Regions from separate parts of the Homo sapiens genome. Here region 1 is linked to region 2. The links come from fine-mapping of genetic effects on gene expression. A gene starts in region 2. The other region holds a variant in brackets. All regions are shown on one strand. Distances are between the middles of the regions.

What was found. PIP is the estimated chance that this variant, and not a neighbour inherited with it, causes the effect. A credible set is the group of variants that fine-mapping cannot tell apart.
Region 1: its variant is the best candidate, but not a certain one, in a credible set for the expression of TGIF2 in T cells (TOPMed, PIP 0.60).

The regions. Positions count from the first base shown.
Region 1 is chr20:36,868,247-36,880,081 of GRCh38, reverse strand. TLDC2 (TBC/LysM-associated domain containing 2) reads right to left here and starts at 3,944. Exons shown (of 7, transcript NM_080628.3): 1 at 3,875-3,944; 2 at 2,028-2,183; 3 at 889-1,041. The coding sequence starts at 3,907. It also overlaps the pseudogene RN7SL156P. RefSeq lists an enhancer at 7,594-8,100. The variant T/C (reference allele first, on the strand shown) is at 6,169.
Region 2 is chr20:36,566,251-36,578,085 of GRCh38, reverse strand. TGIF2 (TGFB induced factor homeobox 2) reads right to left here and starts at 4,489. Exons shown (of 3, transcript NM_021809.7): 1 at 4,341-4,489. TGIF2-RAB5IF (TGIF2-RAB5IF readthrough) reads right to left here and starts at 3,571. Exons shown (of 5, transcript NM_001199535.2): 1 at 3,451-3,571. DLGAP4-AS1 (DLGAP4 antisense RNA 1) reads left to right here and starts at 4,811. Exons shown (of 5, transcript NR_109939.1): 1 at 4,811-5,174; 2 at 6,543-6,645. RefSeq lists silencers at 4,133-4,302, 4,373-4,462, 4,493-4,812 and enhancers at 5,313-5,372, 5,991-6,543.

The sequences.
Region 1 (11,835 bases), 300 kb before region 2:
TATATATATATGTATATATATATTCTACACAAGTAATCACAGAAAAAAGTAGAAGTAATAGACAAGCAAAAGAAAAAAAGTAAAGCCATCTCTTAATCCCCCTCCTTCTTCCCCAAGATAACCACTCTTAATATTTTGGTATGTTTCCTTCTGACATCAGTTTAATGCCAGTGTACATCTCTATTTTTTTTTTTTTCAGACAGGGTTTCACTCTGTCACCCAGGCTGGAGTGCAGTGGTGTGATCATGGCTCACTGCAGCCTCAGCCTTGCAGGCTCAAGTGATCCTCCTGCCTCAACTACCCTGCAACACCCCTGGCCCCAGTTGCTGGGACTATAGGCATACACCACCACACCTGGCTAATTTTTTTGTGGTTGTTGTTGGTTTTTGGTTTTGGTTTTGGGTTTTTTTAGAGACAGGGTCTGGCTATGTTGTCCAGGCTGGTCTTGATCTCCTGGACTCAAGCCTCCTGCCTCAGCCTCCCAAAGTGCTAGGATTACAGGTGTGAGCCACCGTGCCCAGCACCCCCATAGTTTCTTCTGCTTCTGAGGATGAAGATGCAGTTTTACAGTCAAATGATTATTTGCTTAATGTCTGACCCTTCCCCTATTAGACCATTAGCTCCAAGAGAGCTGGGACCTCTTCTGGGTTGATTCTGCTCTATCCCACCTCTCACCTGGCACACAGAAGGCGCCCCATGTAGATGTGTTGAATGCATAAATGGGGGAATGGCTCTGAGTGGGCAGGTCTCATTGCCATCATCAGTGTCCATTATAGGTGACTTAGTCTGTCACTCTGCCTGCTTGTCCCTGAGCTGCCCTGGGACAGGGCCCATGAGTACCTGGTGGGGTGCCCCCAGAGCCTCGGGTGGTGCCCCTGCCCAGCTCACCTGCCCGTCCTGGTCCCTGAGCACCAGCAGCACTGGCCCGCTGCAGCCCTCCATCCGCCGGTACAGGCTCTGCAGGCTGAAACCGTCCCTTGACGTGCAGAAGACCAGACTCCAGGGATGGCCGGTGACTCTTGGTGGGAAGTGAAAGCTGAGCTGGGGACAGGGTTGGAGGTGAATGGAGGAGTTCTCCTCGCGCCCTCCTGCCATATCCTGGGGGTGGGCTTGGACAGCTAGCATGCATCCAGCACAGTGCTTTACAGGCGATAGAGCAGTTTGCTGTTTCTAGGGACTTTCATGCCATCAGCCATAGCCCTCGGAGATAGGGGTTGTTATTCCCATCTTATAGATGAGGAAACTGAGGCCCAGGGAGGGTGGAACAACTAGCCCAAAGCTCGCATGGGTAGTGAATGGTAGAGACAGGATTTGAACCCAGGTCAGGACTCTCAGGACTCTTTCTGCTTGGTCACCCTTGCCCCCAGAGGCTAGAGAATAGGAAAGATGCTGAACCCTCCTCCTGATCCTCCGTCTCATCCGCCCACCCCTCTCCAGCTTTGGCCTCAGTTCCCAAGGGCTGGTTCTAGGTAGGAATTAGTTTCTTTCCTTTTTTTCTTTTGAGACAGAGTCTCACTCTGTCACCCAGGCTGGAGCAGAGTGACACAATCTCAGCTCACTGCAACCTCCGCCTGCTGGGTTCAAGCAAATCTTGTGCCTCAGCCTCCCGAGTAGCTGAGACTACAGGTGCACACCACCACACCCGGCTAATTTTTGTATTTTTAGTAGAGACAGGGTTTTGCCATGTTGGCCAGGCTCGTCTCCAGCTCCTGGCCTCAAGCGATCCCCCTGCCTTCGCCTCCCAAAGTGCTGGGATTACAGGCGTGAGCCACCGCGCCCGTCCTAGCCTCTTTCTTTACCTCCTTAACCTCCTGGCCCAGTGTAGAGGGAGGTGCTAGCAACACTGGATGATTTTACAAGAAGGGAAAGCAAAGCCCCGAGAGAAGAAGCAATTTGCCGGAGGTAACGCATGATGAGAACAGAGCAAGAGTGACTCTAGGTGCCCCTGGGCGTGGCTGGTGTAGGGCAGGAGGGTGAGACTCTTAGGTTTAGGGCTGAAATTCTTGTGCCATGGGCAATGCCCAGACCTGCCGAATCTCTGAGGCACTCAAAACCTGGCTGGCTTCTGTCAGCTGGGGCACCGTGGGATCCTCAGGAGCAGCAGCTGGGTCTGGAGCTGCCTCCTCCTCCTCTTCCTCTTCGTTACCCTCCTCCCCAGACAGGGTGTCCTCCACCTGGCTGGGCTGCAAAAACACAAAGTGGCCTGGTGTGTCCAGGGACAGGAGGTCCCAGCTTCTACCATCTCCTGAGCCCAAGAGCCTCCTCGGGCCACCTCATCACTCCCTGCCCATGTGCCTGTAACCCCCAGCCCAGCCCAGGGTAGTTGGGGGTTTCCACGACAGACAGGACGCTGCCCCTGCCGCCAGCCTGCTTCCTCCCTGGCCCCTGCCAGCTGAGGGCTGGAGCACAGTCCCCCCACCCCCGCCAGCACCCCACAAGGCTCAGATGGGGCCGTGGGCCGTGCGACTTGTCGGTCTGTTTGCCATGGTCCTGGGTGGGTGGCAGGGATCAAGTTCTAAGCTTGGGAGCAGAGGGGAAGGCAGGTGGTGGCATAGCCCTGGGAGCTTCAATTGTGTGTGTTTGTACATTAAATAATAACAACAAAAAACCCATCCTTGCCCAGGCCTGTGTTCAGTGTGCACTGTCTGTGATCTCTGTGTGTTTCTTCTTCTTTTTTCTTTTTCCTTTTTTTTTTTTTTTTGAGACAGGGTCTTGCTCTGTCACCCAGGCTGGAGTTCAGAGGTGCAATGTCAGCTCACTGCGACCTCTGGCTCCCAGGTTAAAGCAATTCTCTTGTCTCAGCCTCCCAAATAGCTGGGATGACAGGTGCCCACCACCATGCCTGGCTAATTTTTGTATTTTTAGTAGAGACACGGGTTCCTCCTGTTGGCCAGGCTGGTCTCGAACTCCTGACCTCAGATGATCCACCTGGCCTCCCAAAGTGCTGGGATTACAGGCGTGAGCCACCGCGCCTGGCCTTCTGTGTATTTCTTCTTATCAGCATTTTCCAAAGGAAGAAAATGAAGCCCAAAGGTTTCCCCATGAAGCCCGTGAAATGATGCATGCAGTCATATGTGGGATCATACATGTAGGTTCATGTAAAATGTGTTTGTCTGTGCGAATTGTGTGTTGGCTTGGAATAGAGTTGTGTAGGCACATCAATGTGTGGAGGTATTGAGTGTAAATTTGTGTTTATATATCAATGTGTTTGTGTGAGTTGTGATGGTGTAAATATCTACATCCATAAGGGGCATCATTATTCACTCATTCATTCATCCGAGCTTCCACTCTGTACCAGAGTGTGTGTGTGAGTGTGTGTGTTTGAATGTGTGTGTGTCTGTATGTGTGTTTGAGTGTGTGAGTGCATTTGAGTGTGTATGAGTGCATTTGAGTGTGTTTGAGTGTGTGAGTGTGTGTGTTTGCATGTGTATGCGTGTGAGTGTGTATATGTTATATGTATGTGTATGTGTGTGCCTCCACACAATGACCTTGCAGGCTTTTCCCAGGAAGAAGAGACCTCTCAAGGGCTGAGAGATGGACAGGACCCCCTCTCCTGCCCCGCTCTGTTCTCCAGGCTCAGGCCTGAGGCAGGTCTAGCTGTGTGTGGCTCTGAACAGAGCTCCATCCAGCACCCACTCCAGGGAGGAAGGGACAGAGACATCGGTCTGTCCCCCTTGAGAACCTTGGAGCAGGGGTGTTAAGACCCCATGTTCCTGAGTCAGTCCTTGCTCCAAACCACAGGCCTGCCAGGGAGGGACTTGAGAGGGGAACAAGTCACTGCCCGCATCCAACCCTAGCCCAGGCCCCACCCTGCCAGAGACCTCACCTCCTTTCACCTCCCAACCTGCACCACAGACGGAGTTGGAACCCTTACCAGCCGAGTGTAACGCCAGCGGAGGCCTCTCATTCTCCTGTCCCTGCTCAGCCGGCCGTGGGCAGTGAGTGAATCCTCAGCCCTGCCCAGGAAGGAAGCGCTGATAGGTGAGGCCTAGAGATGAGAGGGAGAGGCCTGGGGCACACCCAGCCAGCTCCATGCCCACGCCAGCTGCCCTTTGCTCCCTCTCACCTGTCACTCCAGGCCGAGCTGCTGCTGGGTGAGTCTGTGAGCAACTCGGCATTCAAGACCTCATTGCAGTTAGCATGTAACACGTATTAACCATACACCATAGATTCTGGTTGCAATTCCTTTCTACCTCCTTGTCCTTCTGGCAGCCTGGCCTTGGGACTGTGGGCCATTGGCCAGATGCCTAAGGCCCAGGCTGGAGGTCTGGGGCCTCTAGTTCCCCGTATGACCTTGGATAAGCCCATTTGCACTCCTGAGCCTCAGTTTCACCACACACAACATGTAACATGTTGAACCAGATAATCTCAGAAGACTTCGCGGGACTGACAGTCTGCCATTCACTTCCCTCTCCAAGCCGATGAGTGTGTTAGAACAGAAGCTAGAAGGGGGCATGCCTAGACTGAAAGAACAATCTGGCCCAGTGCAGTGGCTCATGCCGGTAAGCCCAGCACTTTGGGAGGCTGAGGGAGCCGTATCACTTGAGTCCAGGAATTTGAGACCAGCCTAGGCAACATGGTGAAACCCTGTCTCTACAAAAAATATAAAAATTAGCTGGGCATGGTGTCGTGCGCCTTAATCCCAGCTACTCGGAAGACTGAGGTGGGAGGATCACCTGAGCCTGAGAGGAGGAAGCTGCAGTGAGCCGAGATCATGCCACTGCACTCCAGCCTGGGCAAGAGTGAGGCCTTGTCTCAAAAAAAAAAAAAAAAAAAGCTATTTTTACTTTGCATCCTAAACACAGATGTATTTTAGGCTTTCATCATTGCTTTGCTTGTCATTTAACAGAAAGTTTCTTTATTAAGTCTTTGTTTCTTTTTCCATATTTAGTTTCAGATGGGGGTGGGGGGAACAGATGAATTTCTTTTTTTTTTTTTTTTTTTGAGTCAGAGTCTCACTCTGTCGCCCAGGCTGGACTGCAGTGGCATGATCTTGGCTCACTGCAAGCTCTGCCTCCCGAGTTCACGCCATTCCCCTGCCTCAGCCTCCCAAGTAGCTGGGACTACAGGCACCCACCACCACGCCTGGCTAATTTCTTGTATTTTTAGTAGAGACGGGGTTTCACTATGGAACATATGAATTTCTAAATTGAAACATAAATAAACTTTTGTTAATGTTCAGTAAAAAAAAAAAGAATAGATTTTAAAAGGTGTTTTGTTTTGTTTTGTTTTTTGAGATGGAGTTTCACTCTTATTGCCCAGGCTGGGGTGCAGTGGCGTGATCTGGGCTCACCGCAACCTCTGCCTCCCGGGTTCCAGTGATTCTTTTGCCTCAGCCTCCACCCAGCTAATTTTGTATTTTTGGTAGAGATGGAGTTTCTCTATGTTGGTCAGGCTGGTCTCGAACTCCTGACCGCAGGTGATCCGCCCGCCTCAGCCTCCCAAAGTGCTGGGATTACAGGCGTGAGCCACTGGGCCCGGCCCAAGCTTTTTTTTTTCTAATTAAAAAGTGATATTTAGATATTGTAGAAAATTTGAGAAACCGGAAAAGAATAAGAATATAAAAATATTCACAATTCCATCTCTCACAAATAAACTCTCAACCCCCAAAGGTATATTTGCAAAGGGCTCACATTATGTGTTCATACCATATTGACCACACAGTGTTTTTGTTGTTTTTGTTTTTGAGACAGAATCTTGCTCTGTTGCCTAGGCTGGAGTGCAGTGGTGTGATCTTGGCTCACTGCAACCTCTGCCTCCCAGGTTCAAGTGATTCTCCTGTCTCAGCCTCCCAAATAGCTGGGATCAGAGGTGCGTGCCAAAACACCCAGCTAATTTTTGTATTTTTAGTAGAGACGAGGTTTCTCCATGTTGGTCAGGCTGGTCTTGAACTCCTGACCTCAGGTGATCTGCCCTCCTCGGCCTCCCATAGTGCTGGGATTACAGTCATGAGTCACCGCGCCCGGCCGACCACACAGTTTTATAAAATACTTTTTCTACTAACAACAATCGAGAATTCTCCAAGATACCCTACGCTCTTGGAATGCATGATTCCTCGAGTGGCTGCGTATTATTTCATCACAGGACATTCATAACTTATTCCCCCTGCTGTTGGACATTTTGTTTACTTCTAATTTTCTCTAATTATTAGCAAAACTGCAATGAACG[T/C]TGTTCATAAATCTGACTGTATCCTTTATGATAAATTTCAAAAGTTGAATGCTGGATCAAAGGCCATATGCATAGTTCTTGATAAGTGTTTCCAACAAGGTTACCCAGGTGCTTAAAGTTGACCCATGTCCAAGTACTTTTAGGGAAGCTCAAGGTAATATCTTTCTGGTCATCAAACCTTATGACCCTCGGACTAGAGATAAGGAAACTGCCATTCAGAAAAGGGAAGGAACTCATCACAGTCACATGAGTGTAGGACGGCGGTTAAGAGGACAAGCTCTGGAGTCAGAGAGTTCAAATCCTGGTTTTGCCACTTTCTTTGCTGTGTGGCCTTGGGGAAATTACTTTACATCCCTGTGCTTCAGTCACCTCACCTGTAAATATTAATATCTACATCTACATCAGGGCTGTTGTAAGAGTAAATGAAGATAAAGCCTAGAGAGCTAGGGTGTTAAGCCAGGCATCCAACCTCCTGACCTCAGTTAGGTGAGATAACAGTACCTTATGTTGTTTGTGGGTGCTGGGTGAGTGGCAATACTTATTACAATCCCCCCACACTGACTCTTTGAGAGTCTAGGGCTCGAATCCCTGACAAGTGACCCCTCAGCCTCCACCTGGGTGCCTCTGGGACAGGCAGTCCCTTGGTCAGTTGCAGGGTGAGGAGCTCAAAGGGTGAAGGGAAATAAGGGAGCTGTGGAAGGATGTACTCACCCTGCCTTTAGCGTATCTCCCTGATCCCCAGAGAGGGGGCCACACGGGCACTGACCCTGCCCACCTGGTGGTCTGTCTGCGGCAGCTAGCTCCAATCCCTGGTCCCTGGGTAGGTGGCTGGCCCCTCTGACCCAGACTCCAGGCTCTCCTCCCTAGCTCTTATATCTGCCCAGAGGGCGGCAAGCCCTGGCCCTGTGCCCACTCTGGTTCCAGCTGGGAAGGCCCAGCAGTGATTATGATACATCAGAAACTCAAATCCCACAAGCACACACAAACAAGACCTTATCATCCCCCGGCACCCAGCTCTGCCCCCAACAGCCCAAAGAGGTGGGGATAGCAGGCACATTGGCTCTCCTGAAGCCTCTCACCACAGCTGCCAGATGCCAGGTCCTGGTGCTTGATGCCCACCACTGAAGACTATTCCCTTGAGGTTAAAATCTGCAATATGGCTGGGCACGGTGGCTCACACCTGTAATCCTAGGATTTGGGGAGTCTCAGGTGGGAGGATCGCCTGAGCCCAGGGGTTTGAGAACAGCCTGGACAACATGGCGCAACTCCATCTCTACAAAAAAATTTTAAAAATTAGCCAGGTGTGGTGGCACATGCCTGTAGTCCCAGCTACTTGGGAGGCTGAGATGTGAAGATCACCTGAGCCTGGGAAAGTCGAGGCTGCAATGAGCCAAAATCACATCACTGCACTCCAGCCTGGGCAACAGAGTGAGACCCTGTCTCAAAAATAAAAGAAAATAAAATCTCTGATCTACAAACACTACAGGAAAGGGTGAGGTTGTGGGGTTCTCCGTCAGTCACCCTGTGCTCCAGGGCCGGCAGGCTCGGCCCCTGCTGGTTTCCTCTCAGATGAGATGAGGACGTTTCTCACTGGACTGTGGTGACATTAGGCGAGGTCACACACAGGAAGCTATGTTTGGCAGGCAGTAGACGATCCATTGAAGAGGGGGCTACTTCTCTGTCCCCAGCTCACAGTAAGATCTCAATGACTGCTCTGTTGTTGACTCACAGAACTTCAAAGCTGGAAAGGGCTTCAGTAGCCTGCCCCTGGGATGGGAATCCCCTGGGGAATGTGCCCAGGTCACCGGCCTGTTAGGTGGGTGAGCCCACCGTTTCACAGGTAGCTTGTGCCATCTTTTCACAGCTGAAAGAGACCCTATTCTGCTGGTCTTGGTGGAGAGGACATGGGTCCCCAGATGCCCTGCTCGTGGCCGGGTGTCCTGGGGCAGTGTTCCCTCCGGGAAGTGTGGGATGCCAAAAGGACGTGTATTATGGGGAAAACAAGTAAGCAAAGGGCCCTGTTGCCACCTCAAACATGGCTGTTGCAATGTGTGTTTAAGCTGTAAATGGCTTGGGGCTCACATGCCTAGCACTTCTTGCCACCCCTCCTCCAAGCTCAACACCTGAACCACTGAGCACTTTGAGAAGCCAATGGGGTTTGCCTTACTGTCCCATTCTGTGTCCTCATGGTCAGGAAAACTCAGCGTGTGATCTGGCAGGAACATCAACTGCCACATAACCGGCTGCTAGAAAGCTTCCGTGATGGAGGCTGGGTACAGTGGCTCATGCCTGTAATCCCAGCACTTTGGGAGGCTGACGTGGGCAGATCACCTGAGGTCAGGAGTTCAAGACCAGTCTGGCCAACAAGGCGAAACCCTATTTCTACTAAAAATACAAAAAAAAAAAATTTTAGCTGAGTGTGGTGGCGCATGCCTGTAGTCCCAGCTCCTTGGGAGGCTGAGGCAGGAGAATCGCCTGAACCCAGGAGGTGGGGGTTGCAGTGAGCCGAGACTGCACCACTGCACTCCAGCCTGAGCGACAGAGCAAGACTCTGACTCAAAAAGAAAAAAAAAAGGCTAGGCGCAGTGGCTCATGCCTATAATCCTAGTACGTTGGGAGGCTGAGGCAGGTGTATTCCTTGAGGTCAGGAGTTCAAGACCAACCTGGCCAACATGGCGAAACCCCGTCTCTACTAAAAATACAAAAAAATTTAGCCGGTTGTAGCGGTACACACCTGTAGTCCCAGCTACTTGGGAGGCTGAGGCAGGATACTCGCTTGAACCCAGGAGGCAAAGGTTGCAGTGAGCTGAGATTGTGCCACTGCACACAAGCCTGGGCAACAGAGCAAGACTCTGTCTCAAAAAACCAAAAAAAAACAAGAACAAAAATCTTCTATGATGGAATTCCAGATACCAGAGGGCCTAGCAGATGTCTGGACTCTGCCTTGAAGTTTACCTTCTTTTTATATCTTTATTTATTTATTTATCTTACTTTATATTTGAGACAGGGTCTTGCTCTATTACTCAGCCTGGAGTACAGTAACATGATCATAGCTCAGTGCAGCCAGTCTCCTGGGCTCAATCCTCCTGCCTCAGCCTCCTGAGTACCTAGGACTACAGGCATGCGCCATCATGCCCTGCTAATTTCTTTTATTTATTTATTTTGTTTTTGTAGAGACGGGGTCTCGCTATATTGCCAAGGCTGGTCTTGAACTCCTGGTCTCAAGTGAGCCTCCCACCTCAGCCTCCAGTGTTGACATTACAGGTGTGAGCCACTGCACTCAGCCTATTTTAATTTTTTTTTTTTTTGGACGGAGTCTTCTTCTGTCACCCAGGCTGGAGTGCAGTGGCTTGATCTTGGCTCACAGCAACCACTGCCTCCTGGGTTCAAGCGATTCTTCTGCCTCAGCCTCCCAAATAGCTGGGACTACAGGCCTGTGACACTATGCCCAGCTAATTTGCATTTTTTTTTAGTAGAGACAGGGTTTTGCCACGTTGGCCAGGCTGGTCTCAAACTCGTGACCTCAAGTGATCCACCTGCCTTGGGCTCCCAAAGTGCTGGGATTACAGGCATGAGCCACTGCACCTGGTCCAGCATGGGAGTTTTGATCTGCTATTTCTGACCTGGGCCAGTTCACTCCTCCTTGGGCAACCTAGTGGTCCCTGCTCCGGGGGAGGTCACCATGCTGATGCTAAACTTAGTGCAGACACCAAATCAGCATAGCACACTCTAGCCCAGAACTCCAGGGTTCAAGCCATTGTCTTGCCTCAGCCTCTCGAGTAGCTGGGACTATAGGCACTGCCACTGCGACCAGCAATTTGCCTTCTCCATTCTTCTTGACCAGACCTCATGCTGCCTCTTTCAGAACTGCAATAGTCATCCAGGAAAAAATTTAAGTGTCTAATAAAAGGGGGAAAGGTGAAGTGATTCATGGAACATCATCCATTCAGTGGATTATTTCTGTGTTGTTGTTGTTGTTGTTGTTTTGACAGTTTTGCTCTTGTTGCCCAGGCTAGAGTGCGATGGCGTGATCTCGGCTCATCACAACCTCTGCCTCCCGGGTTCAAGCAATTCTCCTGCCTCAGCCTCCCAAGTAGCTGGGATTACAGGCATACGCACCACCACGCCTGGCTAATTTTGTATTTTTAGTAGAGGCAGGGTTTCTCCATGTTGGTCAGGCTGGTCTTGAACTCCCAATCTTGGGTGATCTGCCCGCCTCGGCCTACCAAAGTGCTGGGATTATAGGCATGGGCCACTGCGCATGGCCCAGTGGATTATTTCTTTCTTTCTTTTTTTTTTTTTGAGACAGAGTCTTGCTCTGTCTCCCAGGCTGGAGTGCAGTGGCGCGATCTCGGCTCCCCGCAAGCTCCGCCTCCCGGGTCCCTGCCATTCTCCTGCCTCAGCCTCCCTAGCAGCTGGGACTACAGGCACCCGCCACCACGCCTGGCTAATTTTTTTGTATTTTTAGTAGAAACGGGGTTTCACCGTGTTAGCCAGCATGGTCTCGACCTCCTGACCTTGTGATCCGCCCACCTCGGCCTCCCAAAATGCTGGGATTACAGGCGTGAGCCACCGCGCCCAGCCCAGTGGATTATTTCTAAGTATGAAGAGTGATGTTTGCAAAGAGCTTATAAATGTGTTATAAATGTGTGGGGATATGCTTCTGCTACCCTGTTAAGCGAAAAAAGCAGGATACAAAATTGCATAGGCAGTAAGATTTCAGCTATGCAAAAGAAACTTGAAATTAGCAAAGAGAAAATGACTAAAAGGGAATACACCCGGTGTTCACTGGGCTGACTGGCTCCCCTTTGAACTTCAGGTGAGTATAAGATGACCAGACACTCCCTGACATGTCCCAGAAGGTTTGATTTTCACTCTCTGAGATCTCTTCTTTCTCTTACTCTGAATGGCTGGCAACTGCATTCTTCATTGAGAAAACAGAAGTGGGCCAGGCACAGTGGCTCATAACTGTAATCCCAGCACTTTGGGAGGTCGAGGTGGGTGGATCACTTGAGGTCAGGAGTTTGAGACCAGCCTGCCCAACACGGTGAAATCCTGTCTCTACTAAAAATACAAAAGTTAGCCAGGCATGATGGCGGGCACCTGTAGTCCCAGCTACTTGTGAGGCTGAGGCAGGAGAATTGCTTGAACCCAAGAGGTGGAGGTTGCAGTGAACTGAGATGGCATCACTGCACTCTAGCCTGGGCGGCAGAGTGACACTCCATCTCAAAAAAAAAAAAAAAAATTAGCTAGGCGTGGTGGCACGCACCTGTAATCCCAGCTACTCGGGAGGCTGAGGCAGGAGAATCATTTGAGCTTGGGAGGTGGAGGTTGCAGTGAGCTGAGATCGTGCAACTGCACTCCAGCCTGGGCAACAGAGTGAGACTCTGTCTCAAAAAAAAGAAAGAAAAAAGAAAAAGCAGCAGCCGGGCATGGTGGCTCACACCTGTAATCCCAGCACTTTGGGAGGCCAAGGCAGGCAGATCTTGAGGTCAGGAGTTAGAGACCAGCCTGGTCAAAATAGTCAAACTCCGTCTCTACTAAAAATACAAAAAAAAATTAGCCAGGTGTGGTGGTGGGCGCCTGTAATCCCAACACTCAGGGGGCTGAGACAAGAGAATTGCTTGAACCTGGGAGGTGGAGGTTGCCGTGAGCCAAGATCACACC
Region 2 (11,835 bases):
CCCAATAAGGGAGAAGCTATTATTATCATCATTTTATAGATGAGGTAACAGAGATCAAGAAAGCTGCCCAAGGCCTGCGCAGTGGCTCACACACACACACACAAAATACAAAAATAAGCCAGGTGTCATGCTGTGCATTTGTAAGCCCACCTACTTGTGGGACTGAGGCAGAATTGCTTGAGCCCAGGAGGTCAAGGCTGTAGTGAACTGTGTTTGTGCCACTGCACTTCAGCCTGGGTGACAACAAAATAAAAAAGGTCTCAAAAAACAAAGGCCGGGCACAGTGGCTCATGCCTGTAATCCTAGCACTTTGGGAGGCCGAGGCAGGCAGATCACGAGGTCAAGAGATTGAGACCATCCTGGCCAACAGGGTGAAACCCTGTTTCTACTAAAAATACAAAAATTAGCTGGGCATGGTGGCGCGTGCCTGTAGTCCCAGCTACTCGGGAGGCTGAGGCAGAATTGCTTGAACCTGGGAGGTGGACGTTGCAGTGAGCCGAAATCGTGCCACCGCACTCCAGCCTAGTGACACAGCGAGACTCCATCTCAAAAAAAAAAAAACAAAAACAAACAAAGGCCGGACACGGTGGCTCACGCTCGTAATCCCAGCACTTTGGGAGGCCGAGGTGGGTGGCTCACCTGAGGTCAGGAGTTCGAGACCAGCCTGGCCAACATGGCAAAACCCCGTCTCTACTAAAAATACCAAAAAAAAAAAAAAATTAGCTAGGTGTGGTGGCACACACCTGTAATCCCAGCTACTTGGGAGGCTGAGGCAGGAGAACTGCTTGAACCTAGAAGGCAGAGGTTGCAGTGAGCTGAGATCATGGCATTGCACTCCAGCCTGGGTGACAGAGTGATTCCCTGTCTCAACAAAAGAAAAAAATAAAAAAATAAAATAAAATAAAAATTAGCCCAGTGTGATGGTGTGCCAGTAGTCCCAGCTATTCTGAGAGGCTGAGGTGAGAGGATCCCTTGAACCCAGGAGTTCAAGGCTGTAGTGAGCTATGATCGCACCAGTGCATGTCAACCTGGACGACATAATTAAAAACCTGTTTTCAAAAATAAAATAATAAAAAAAAAATGCCACGTGCTGTGGCTCACACCTATACTCCTGGCACTTTGGGAGGCCAAGGCAGGTGGATCGCTTGAGCTCAGTAGTTCAAGACCAGCCTGGGCAACACGGTGAAACCCCATCTCTACAAAAAATACAAAAATTAGTTGAGCACGGTAATGCATGTCTGTGGTCCCAGCTACTCTGGGGGCTGAGGTGGAAGAATCGCTTGAGCCCGGAGGCAGAGGTTGCAATGAGATGAGATCACACTACTGCCCTCCCATCTGAGAGGCAGAGCAAGACCCTGTCCCCCTATCCCCCCGCAAAAAAGTCCTAAAATTGACTATAGTGATGGTTGCAAACATACCAAACCTGCTGATGAGTATACTTTAATGGGTGAATTGCATGGTATGTGAGTTATATCTCAATAAAGCTGTAAAGGAAAAAAATCCCACCCCCAGGTTAGGATAGTGAAGTCGGATTTGGACCAGGCCTCTCCCCACCCCCTCTTGTGAGCTGTATACTGTCTTGCCTCCTAGGTCTCCCAAGGGCCAGTGAGAACTCTGGAAACTACAGATCACCATGATCCTGCAGCAGTCCAAGTAATATTTAAGGAGCACCTACTGTGTACCTTGCAGTGAGAGAGGTGAGTCATCTCTCTACTGGTTGCTTCTTGGACATTCTCCTTTGTCAGGCCCCTTTAGCCTGGTCCTAGACTCAACCACTCAAAATCCAGGTGAATGAGCAAGGCCCACCCTCCACTTGGCACTGTAACTTGGACAAGGATCCTCCCCTTTCTGGGCTTGAGTCCCCTCTTCACCTGTCAAATGAAGGAAGGATTTTCCCTAGATAACCCAACTCAGCTGCTCAGTCCCTGGACAAAGTTCTGTTTCACACGTGCAACAAAGATTTTCTTTCTTTCTTTCTTTCTTTTTTTTTTTTTGAGATGGAGTCTCGCTCTGTAGCCTAGGCTGGAGTGCAGTGGCGCAATCTTGGCTCACTGCAATCTCCATCTCCCAGGTTCAAGCAATTCTCCTGCCTCAGCCTCCCGAACAGCTGGGATTACAGGTGTGTGCCACCACATCTAGCTATTTTTTTTTTTTTAGTAGAGACAGGGTTTTGCCATGTTGGCCAGGCTAGTCTTGAACTCCTGACCTCAGGTGATCTGCCCGCCTCGGCCTCCCAAAGATCTGGGATTACAGGTGTGAGCCACCCCGCCCAGCCAGATTTTCATTTTAAAAGCAAAAGTTCTAGGCCAGGCTGATGCCAGGATCTCAAGGCTCCTCCCTTCTCAGCCTTTTAACAGCTCCCCAGCAGGCCGGCCAACAGACTCTGGCATCTCCCAGGTTTTGTTTCCTCTTCTTGGACCCGAGCCCAGATCTCTGGGCTGGCTAGGCCAGGCTTTCGAGGGAAGGGTCTACCCTTTCAGTCAGGCCACCTGGAGGTGAGACAGGCACTGGTTAGACGTGCCACTCCTCAGAGAGCACCACTGCAGGCTGCTTTCTGAGGTCAGACAGCCATTTCTAGGTGGCCAGGGCAGCTGGGATCTGGGCTCAGTGATGCAGCCCTGGCCGGCTGTGAGAAGTACTCAAGGTTATCTGTACAAATTCCACCCTGGCTGCCAGCCAAGTCTGTCTGCAGGGTTCCCCGGGTGGGCCCTGGGGAATGACCCCTCAGTCTACACAAACTTCTCCACCTCGGTGTTCCGCCACACAGGGCCATCTGTAGTCTGGGAGGCTTCCCACATATGCACCCCACACCGCACCCAGACACACTCACGCCAGGCAATTAACCAACAGCGCTAGGATAACTGGCCCGGACCCATCGCTCAAGCCTTACAAACCCTAGGGTTTTCACCGACGCATACAGCACGCACACGCACAGCTTACAGACCCCAGGCCTAGCACGAACAACTGTGACCCACACAACTAGCCCAACTTCTGTACCCGCCCACCCACGAACTCCAACCGACCCGGCCACCCCCGATCTCTCCGACAGGGAAAACTCCAGGCGTCATCACACTAACAATCAGTTCTACCCTCAGTGACCTGTGGCAGCAACCCCTCGACACAACATCCCGTACACCCTCCTACAGACTCCCACGACGCCACCTGCAGCCACTCCCGCACGAACTTTCTGACAACTCCCCTAGCTGGTCCCGACACTCCCCCGGGCCGCGCACTCACGCCCGCATTCCCAGCAGTTCAGACAAAGCGCGCAACCTCCCCCGCGGCCCAGACCGAGTCGGAGCACATGGCTCCTGGGTCGGCGAGGAATCGTCCGGCGCTCGGGGCGCTTGCACCCCACAGTCCCCACACCCCGGGCCGACTCCGCGCACCAGCTCCCGCGCGGGCCCGCCATCCCGGTGGGACGGGGGCTCTGGAAGAAAGAAAACTCACGTGTCTGTCCCGGGGCAGGAAAAAGTTTGGTTCCCACCCCTACTCCGGCAGTTCGGGGCTGGCCGACTCTTCGGGGCGCGGGGACGGCGGAGCGTGCGCGCTCGGCTTTGTGCTCCGAACTGGGCCCGGAGGGGGAGGGGAGGGGAAGGGAGGGGAGGGGGCTGGGCTCCCACCTCCGCGCCGCCCCCCCCCCCCCAGCCCTGCGCCCAGACTCCATGTTGGCCGCCCCCTGCCCCGGAGACTACGCGCTTCTCCCGCGGGAGGCTTGGATCACCTTCGGCCTGCCCGAGGGTCCCGGCGCGAACAAACTTTCTCCGGGGCGCCGGCCCCACGCGCCCCGCTTCCTTGGCCAGCCTGGGAGTGACAGATGCCTCGGAGACAGACTTTCCTTTGTTCCAAAGGAAAGGGGAACTCGCGCGGGCTCCCCAGGGCCCCCCCGCTCCGGGCCCTTCCCGCGGCCCCCACCCCCAGCTGTCACTCTCGGCCGCCCCCTGTCCGGCTCGGCGGCGGGGGGGCCCTGCTGGCGGTTAGCAACGTGCACTTTTGAAACCAAACAAATCCGTCCCCCCGCGCGCTCACTCAGGTCCGGTGCAGGATCGGCCCTCTCCTGGGGTGGGATCCTATGAAGCTGGGCCCCCCACCAGGGCCCCAAGCGGGCTTCCTCCCGGGGGCTGGAACAGTCCCCCACCGGCCCCCGGAGCGCAGCGCCGTCGGGACTCACAAACACCCCCCGGGGGCCGTCGGGACTCACAAACACCCCCGAGCTCACACACCCCCTACCGCACGCGCCAGGACGACGCCCCCTCCCCGTCCGGCCGAGAAAAAGAAACTTTCCAAGTTGTCCGCGCGCCCCCACCCCCATCTGGCCCTCTGCTGCTCCCTGCACTGACTTTTCCCAGCGGCTTTCGGGTCCACGCGGCCTCCGGCTCGGCGCGGGGCGTCCCGGCGGGGAGCGGGGGGCGCCGGGGGCGCGCGCCGCGTACCTGCCCGGCCTGACACTCGGCCTGACAGCTCGCGGCTGGAAAGCACCTCGCGGCCTGACGTCAGATCCCCTCTCCTCCCCCCGCGCCCTCTGCGCCCTCCCCCACCCGCCCGGAGGGAGAAAACAAACTTTGTGCGGAGCGCGACGAGCTGCGCCCACCCCCCGCGGGGCGGGCCGTCGGCGCCGAGGGGCTTCGCCCCGCCCAGCGCGCCCGGAGGGGGCGGGGCCGCGGGCACCTTCTTCCTGCGCCCACCCCGCCCTCAGGAATGCTGCATGGCCTACCCATAGCGGCGGTGGGAGCCTCCGCCGGGGAGAGCCCGCTCGGGGGCAGGAAGTGGCCCGGCCCTCCTCGTGGAGGGCGTTTCCGGAGCGCCTACTGTGCTCCTTGCCGGGGTGGGGGTCGTTACCGAGTGGGAACTTCTGCAAATCCTGACTTTTGTCACTTCGCGCCCCGCACAAGATGTCCTGCCGGCGGTGCGATTGGTCCCGTTGCTTCGAGGGGAAACTGAGGCCACTTAGTCCGGGCACTTACCCGCAGCTAGTTAAGGACTAGGCTCTGATGGAGACGCTTGTTACGACCTCAATGGCCTGTAGAATCTGGGAGGCCGCCTCCGACCTAAGCCCAAAAAGCACATGATCGGGCTCACAGGGGGCGGCCAGAGGTGAAAACAGCCAACGCTTTACAACGACGCTGTGCGGGGCACTTCGTGTGTGTCATCCCGTCTCATCCTCGGGTGATAGGGTATGTGTTGTCCTATGTAAGTCTCTGGCTTACTCATGAGCCGCAGAGAGGTTCTTGATTTGCTTTTGTCACACAGTCAACCGGTATCATTCAGCCCAGGTCGGTCGATAGTGAAGCCTGATCCCTTACCCCTTGTGCCCGGCCTTAAACGATCAGTCCAGGAGCTCCCGGAGTTCCTGTCTGGTTTCTTTTTCCTCTTCTGCCAGTTACACCCTACTCCAGAAGGTTTTCCTTGGCCTCCCCCACCCCAGTCAGTACATTCTTCCCTGCTCTCTGCTGTGGGTACCACATACTGTGATATTTCTGTTAACCAGCCTCTTAGGGCATCCCCCCACGCCCCCCAGCCCTGTACCCGGACACGGCTAGGTCCAGATATCTAGGGCCCTTGAGCTTGGAAATCGCTTTGAAAACAGCTTTTGGACTTAATTACCCTTTAGCAATGGAGAACTCTAGGAACAAAACTCTTAATTTTTTCCAAACAAGCCTTAAGCCAATCAGAATGCTGATTAAAGATTGTTAAGGTTTCACCTGGACACCCCATAGAAGCCAGACTTCCTGCAAATGTTAAAAACCTCCTCACGGCAGCGGGTGAAATGTCAGTGGCACTGCCTGTTGCTCTCCATTTCACAGACAGGGAAAATAAGGCCCAGAGTGTGGGTCAGAAACAATTTTTTTGGCCGGGGAAGTGGTGCTCCCCCCACGGCCCTGTGAAAGAAAAAGCCACGTCTGGGTTGCCTTAGGTAAGAAATGTAAAACCAATGGGCCTTGGCCTCTAGGAAATGTATGGGACAGGGACCTTCAGAAGAGGGGAGCCCCAGGGGGAAATGGGTGCGACCAGGTGAGCCTGGAGAGGGGGCTCTGGTAGTGGCTGCTGAGCTTGAACTCCGCACTAGGCGTTTTTCTCCTGTATGCGTAAGAGCCACATTCTGCCCTTTCTGGGGAAGCCACTGGGGGCCTGGGCTAGAGGAAGAGACCGCACCGTAAATTGTGCCTGCAGCAGCCCCTTAGACGAGTGTTTCCCAAGTCTGGTGCTAGATGTGGTTGGGAAAATGGAAGCGGGGGAGTGCTGCCTCCTCCTCCACCTGAGAGCTGCATAACAAAGACCTGGAGCCCCTCCTCTCTCCTGGAGGACGGGGTAGTGGTGGAGGGAGGCTGGTAGCCGGTCAGATTTTGCACGTAAGCAAGCTTCACAGATAAAGCCTAAGTGCAATTAGAGTTTGAGAATTACCGTGTCAAGTTTCTGAACTAGTAAGTATCAGAATTTAAAATGTGTAGATTCTCTAAGACAGTAATTCCACTTCTAGGAATCTGTCTTTTGAAGTAGCTGTACAACAAAGATAAATGCTTATAGAAGATTGTTCTTTGCAGAACTGTTCATTCGGGAAAATTGCAAACAACTAAATACCCCTCACCAGGAGCTGGCCCATTATAGCAACTCTGAGACCTCTCTACCGCAGGCTCTTAAAATGGGGTAAGTTGGTGCGCGCTAATGTAGGGGCATGACCAAGGTATATTTATTGACAGCTTACAGTGTCCCAACAAGGAGGGACTTTGGACATAGTTGGTGAGAACTTTAGTGGGAAAACTTTTTCCAAGTGATAAGTTATTGTCATTTTTCTCTCCCCTACTTTCTTTTTTCTTTTTTTTTTTTTTTTTGAGACAGAGTCTCGTTCTGTCGCCCAGGCTGGAGTGCAGTGATGCGATCTCAGCTCACTGCAACCTCCACCTCCCAGCTGCAAGCGATTCTCCTGCCTCAGCCTCCTGAGTAGCTGGGACTAAAGGCGCCCACGCCCACCACCGTGCCCAGCTAATTTTTGTGTTTTTAGTAGAGACTTGAGTTTTGCCATGTTGGCCAGGCTGATCTTGAACTCCTGACCTCAAGTGATCCACCGCCTCAACCTCCCAAAGTGTTAAGATTACAGGTGTGAGCCTAGCTTTCTCCTCCTCTTTCTAAATTAAAAAGAAATATTGTGATAAGAAGCTCCTCCTACCTTTTTTCCCCATGTTTGAAGAAACTGGGTTGCTAAGGGAAGAAAAGACTTGCCTAATAGGAGTTTGGGGTCCTGACCCCTGGAAGGGAGCTGGGGATAGACTAGGAGAGGAAGGAGAGGTGGAAAGGCATCCAAGCCCAGACCAGCCTGGCTGCCCAGGTCATCTAAGTCAGTTCCCTGCCTCCGTACCAGAAAAACCCAAACCGGAGGCTCTTGGATGTGAGGCTCCAGGTTCATCCTGCCAGTTTCTAGTGAACTTGGTGATCACATAGGTTTAAATGAATAAATCCACTTTTGTTAAAAAAAAAAAAAAGTGAGCCGCTTCCTTTTTTTTTTTGAGACAGAGTTTCGCTCTTGTTGCCCAGGCTAGAGTGCAGTGGCGAGATCTCGGCTCACTACAACCTCCGCCTGCCAGGTTCAAGTGATTCTCCTGCCTCAGCCTCCTGAGTATCTGGGATTACAGGCATGCACCACCACGCCCGGCTAATTTTGTATTTTCAGTAGAGACGGGGTTTCGCCATGTTGGCCAGGCTGGTTTTGAACTCCTGACCTCAGGTGATCTACCTGCCTTGGCCTCCCAAAGTACTGAGATTACAGGTGTGAGCCACCACACCTGGCCACCGCTCCCTTTTTGATGGAAGTGGGGAAAGGCACCAGCATTCACTGAGAATCCATATGAGCCAAGTTGCATCTCAGGATAAAGGAGAAGATGGGCTTCTGTGGGGTAGAGGGAAGAGTCCAACAAAGGCCAGGGAGGGTGAAAGTGTTCAGGAAACAACTGGATTGGTTGAGATGGAAGGGCTGTGAAGGCCAGGATGAAGAATTTGGATTTGGCAGTGTGGGCAGTAGAGAGCTCCAGCTGGTTCCTGCGGAGAGCTGGGGAGAGACTGGAGGGAGGATAGTTGGTGACTCAGCTCTGGATAATTGAGGCCGAGCGGATGGAGACCCGCCTCTGAGATCTAGGGAGATTTGTGGCTGTTATGTGAGGTTCTGCATTTTCATCTAATGTTGATAAGTGGAATTCCACATCTTCCTCCTGAAAAGTCTTGCAGTGTCTTGTTGGTCAACCACAATTTGCCTAGCTTTCTCCTAGTTGTTGGGTATTTACTCACGTAACTAATTTCTGAGTGCCCACCTGTGTCTGGCTGTGTGCCTATGGCTGGAAAACCTACAGCCAAGCTTACTCCTGAAGGCTTTGGGCGACAGTGCCTTGCGGTGGGAAGGCTGTGGCCCTGGGACTTGGTTACTAGCCAGGTGATTTAGGAAAATCATCCACACCTTCTGAACCTCCCTTTTCTCATGTTGTGGAAACACAAGGCTTCGGTGAGAGTCAAAGAAAACAGGCACACCCCTTGTTTCATTGTGCCTTGCTTTTTTGCGCTTTGCAGGTACTGCGTTTTTTTCAAATTGAGGGCTTTTGGCAACCCTGTGTCGAGCAAAGTCTACCAGCATTATTTTTCCAAAAGGATGCTCAGTATGTGTCTCTGTGCCACATTTTGGTAATTCTTGAAATATTTCAAAGTTTGTTATTATTATATCTAGTATGGTGATCTGCGATCAATAATCTTTGATGTTACTATTGTAATTGTTTTGGGGCATCATGAATGATGCTTGTGTAAGACGGTAAACTTACTCCATCAATATTGTATGTGTTCTGACCGCTCCACCAACCAGCTGTTTGCAATTAGTAATCGTACAGTGGCCTCTAAGTGTTCAAGTGTAAGGAAGAGTTGCAAATCTCTCACTTCACATCAAGAGCTAGAAATAATTAAGCTCAGTGAGAAAGGCATGTTGAAAGCCAAGATAGGCCTTTTTTTTGTTTTTTTAGTTTTTAGTAGAGACGAGGTCACGCTATGTTGTCCAGGCTGGCCTCCAACTCCTGGGCTCAAGTGATCCTCCTGCCTCAGCCGTCCCAAGTGTTGGGATTAAAGTTGTGAGCCACCATGCCCCGCCTCTGGAGTAGCACTTTTAATTTCACTCAAGAACAATTGGCTGGGCGCGGTGGCTCACACCTGTAATCCCAGCTACTGGGGAGGCTGAGGCGGGAGAATTGCTTGAATCTGGGAGGCAGAGGTTGCAGTGAACTGAGATCACGCCACTGCACTCCAGCCTGGGCGACAGAGCAAGACTCTGTCTCAAAACAAACAAACAAAAACTATCTGGCTAGGTCTGGTGGCTCATGCCTGTAATCCCAACACTTCGGGAGGCCGAGGCAGGGGAAGGTCTCTTGAACCCAGGAGTTTGAGGCCAGCCTGAGCAACATAGCAAGACCCCCTCTCAACAAAAAATAATCAGCTGGGCATGGTGGCGAATGCCTGTAGTCCCAGCTACTTGGGAGGCTGAGGTGGAGGAAGGCTTGAGCCCAGGAGGTTGAGGCTGTGGTGAGGTATAATTGTGCCACTGTACTCCAGCCTGCGTGAAAGAGTGAGACCCTGTCTCAAAAATTGGCCAGGCGCAGTGGCTCATGCCTGTAACCTGAGCACTTTGGGAGGCCAAGGCAGGTGGGATCACTTGAGGTCAGGAGTTCGAGACCACCCTGGCCAACATGGTGAAAGCCCATCTGTACTAAAAAGAAAAAAAAAATACAAAAATAAATAAAGAAAAAGGTGCTATTTCAGTGAACACAGTAATAAGAAAGGGAACAGCCTTATTGCTGATATGGAGAAAATTTGAGTGGTCTAGATAGATGATCAGACCAGCGACAACGTTCCCTTAAACCAAAGCCTAATCCAGAGCATAAGCCCTAACTGTCTTCAATTCTCTGAAGGCTGAGAGAGCTGAGGAAGCTGCTGAAGAAAAGTTGGAAGCTATCAGGCTTCAGTAGGCTTTTTTTTTTCTTTTTTTTTTTTTTTTTGAGACGGAGTCTTGCTCTGTCGCCCAGGCTGGAGTATAGAGGCATGATCTTGACTCACCACAACCTCTGCCTCCCGGTTTAGGCGATTCTCCTGCCTCAGCCTCCCGAGTAGCTGGGATTATAGGCGCAGGCTACCACGCCCAGCTAATTTTTCGTATTTTTAGTAGAGATGGGGTTTCACCATGTTAGCCAGGCTGGTCTCGAACTCCTGACCTCAAGTGATCTGCCCACCTCGGCCTCCCGAAGTGTTGGGATTACAGGCGTGAGCCACTGCACCCGGCCAATTTCTGTATTTTTAGTAGAGATGGCGTTCCACCATGTTGCCCAGCCTGGTTTCAAATTCCTGACCTCAGGTGATCCGCCTGCCTTGGCCTCCCAAAATGTTGGGATTACAGGTGTGAGCCACTGTGCCTGGCCTGGAATTTCTTTGATGAGAGCTATGCCTTGACAGTCTCATTTTTCCATTGTACTAGAAGGTCTGGGGCCCTGGGAGCTAGTGCGGCATGAAGGCCTGAGTGGGCTCTGTGCCTTGCTGACAGTGTTCCCAAGCTGAGTGGAGGAAGACTAAGGGTCTGGATATCCTCAACACTGAGTACATGAATTTCTGTGTAACCCTTCTGTTGTTGCTGTCTTCTCCTCTCCTGTGCCTGGTGTTCATCTGTCCAGGACCTTCTGTATTCTTTGGATAATAAATTTCTGATCTCTTGTCGGGTCTAGGTTGCAGCCTTCATAGGATCTAGGAGTCCACTGCTTTTTTTTCTTTTTTCTTTTTCTGAGACAGAGTCTCGCTGTGGTGCAATCTCTGCTCACTGCAACATCCGCCTCTCAGGTTCCCGTGATTCTCATGTCTCAGCCTCCCAAGTAGCTGAGATTACAGGCGCCCGCCACCACACCTAGCTAATTTTTGCATTTTTAGTAGAGACATGGTTTCGCTGTGTTGCCCAAGCTGGTCTTGAACTCCTGAGCTCAAGTGATCCACCTGCCTCGGCCTCCCAAAGTGTTGGGATTAAAGAATAGAGATAAGGGAGGCACAGAGGGGCTAAGTAACACCTGAGGTTATAAAACTGGTCATTGGAGGAGGTAGGATTTTATTCCTGAAAGGTTAATGGTAATATTATCGTCTCCATTTCTGACTCTAGTAATTTCAAGTCTTTTTTCTTTTTTTCTTGGTCAGTCTAGCTGAGGGTTTGTCAGTTGCTTTGACTTTTTTCAAAGAACCAACTTTTGGTTTTATCAATTTTCTCTATTGTTTTTCTGTTCTCTATTTCATTCATTTCTGCCCCAGCATTTATTGTTTCTTTCCTTTTGCTTACTCCTGCTTTTGCTCTTCTTTTCTAATTTTTCTGGTATCTTAAAGTGGAAGGTTAGATTATTGATTTACAATCTATATTTATTTATTTACTTTTTTCTTTTCTTTTGAGACAGAGTCTAGCTCTGTCCCCCAGGCTGGAGTGCAGTGGCGCAATCTAGGCTCACTGCAAGTTCCGCCGCCATGGTTCACGCCATTCTCCTGCCTCAGCCTCCCGAGTAGCTGGGACTACAGGCACCCGCCACCACACCTGGCTAATTTTTTGTATTTTTAGTAGAGACGGGGTTTCACCGTGTTAGCCAGGATGGTCTCAATCTCCTGACCTCGTGATCCGCCTGCCTCAGCCTCCCAAAGTGCTGGGATTACAGGCGTGAGCCACCGTGCCCGGCCTACAATCTTCATTTTTTTTTTAAATAGGCACATATGGGCCAGGTGTGGTGGCTCATGCCTGTAATCCCAGCATTTTGGGAGGCCGAGGTTGGGCGGATCACCTGAGGTCAGGAGTTC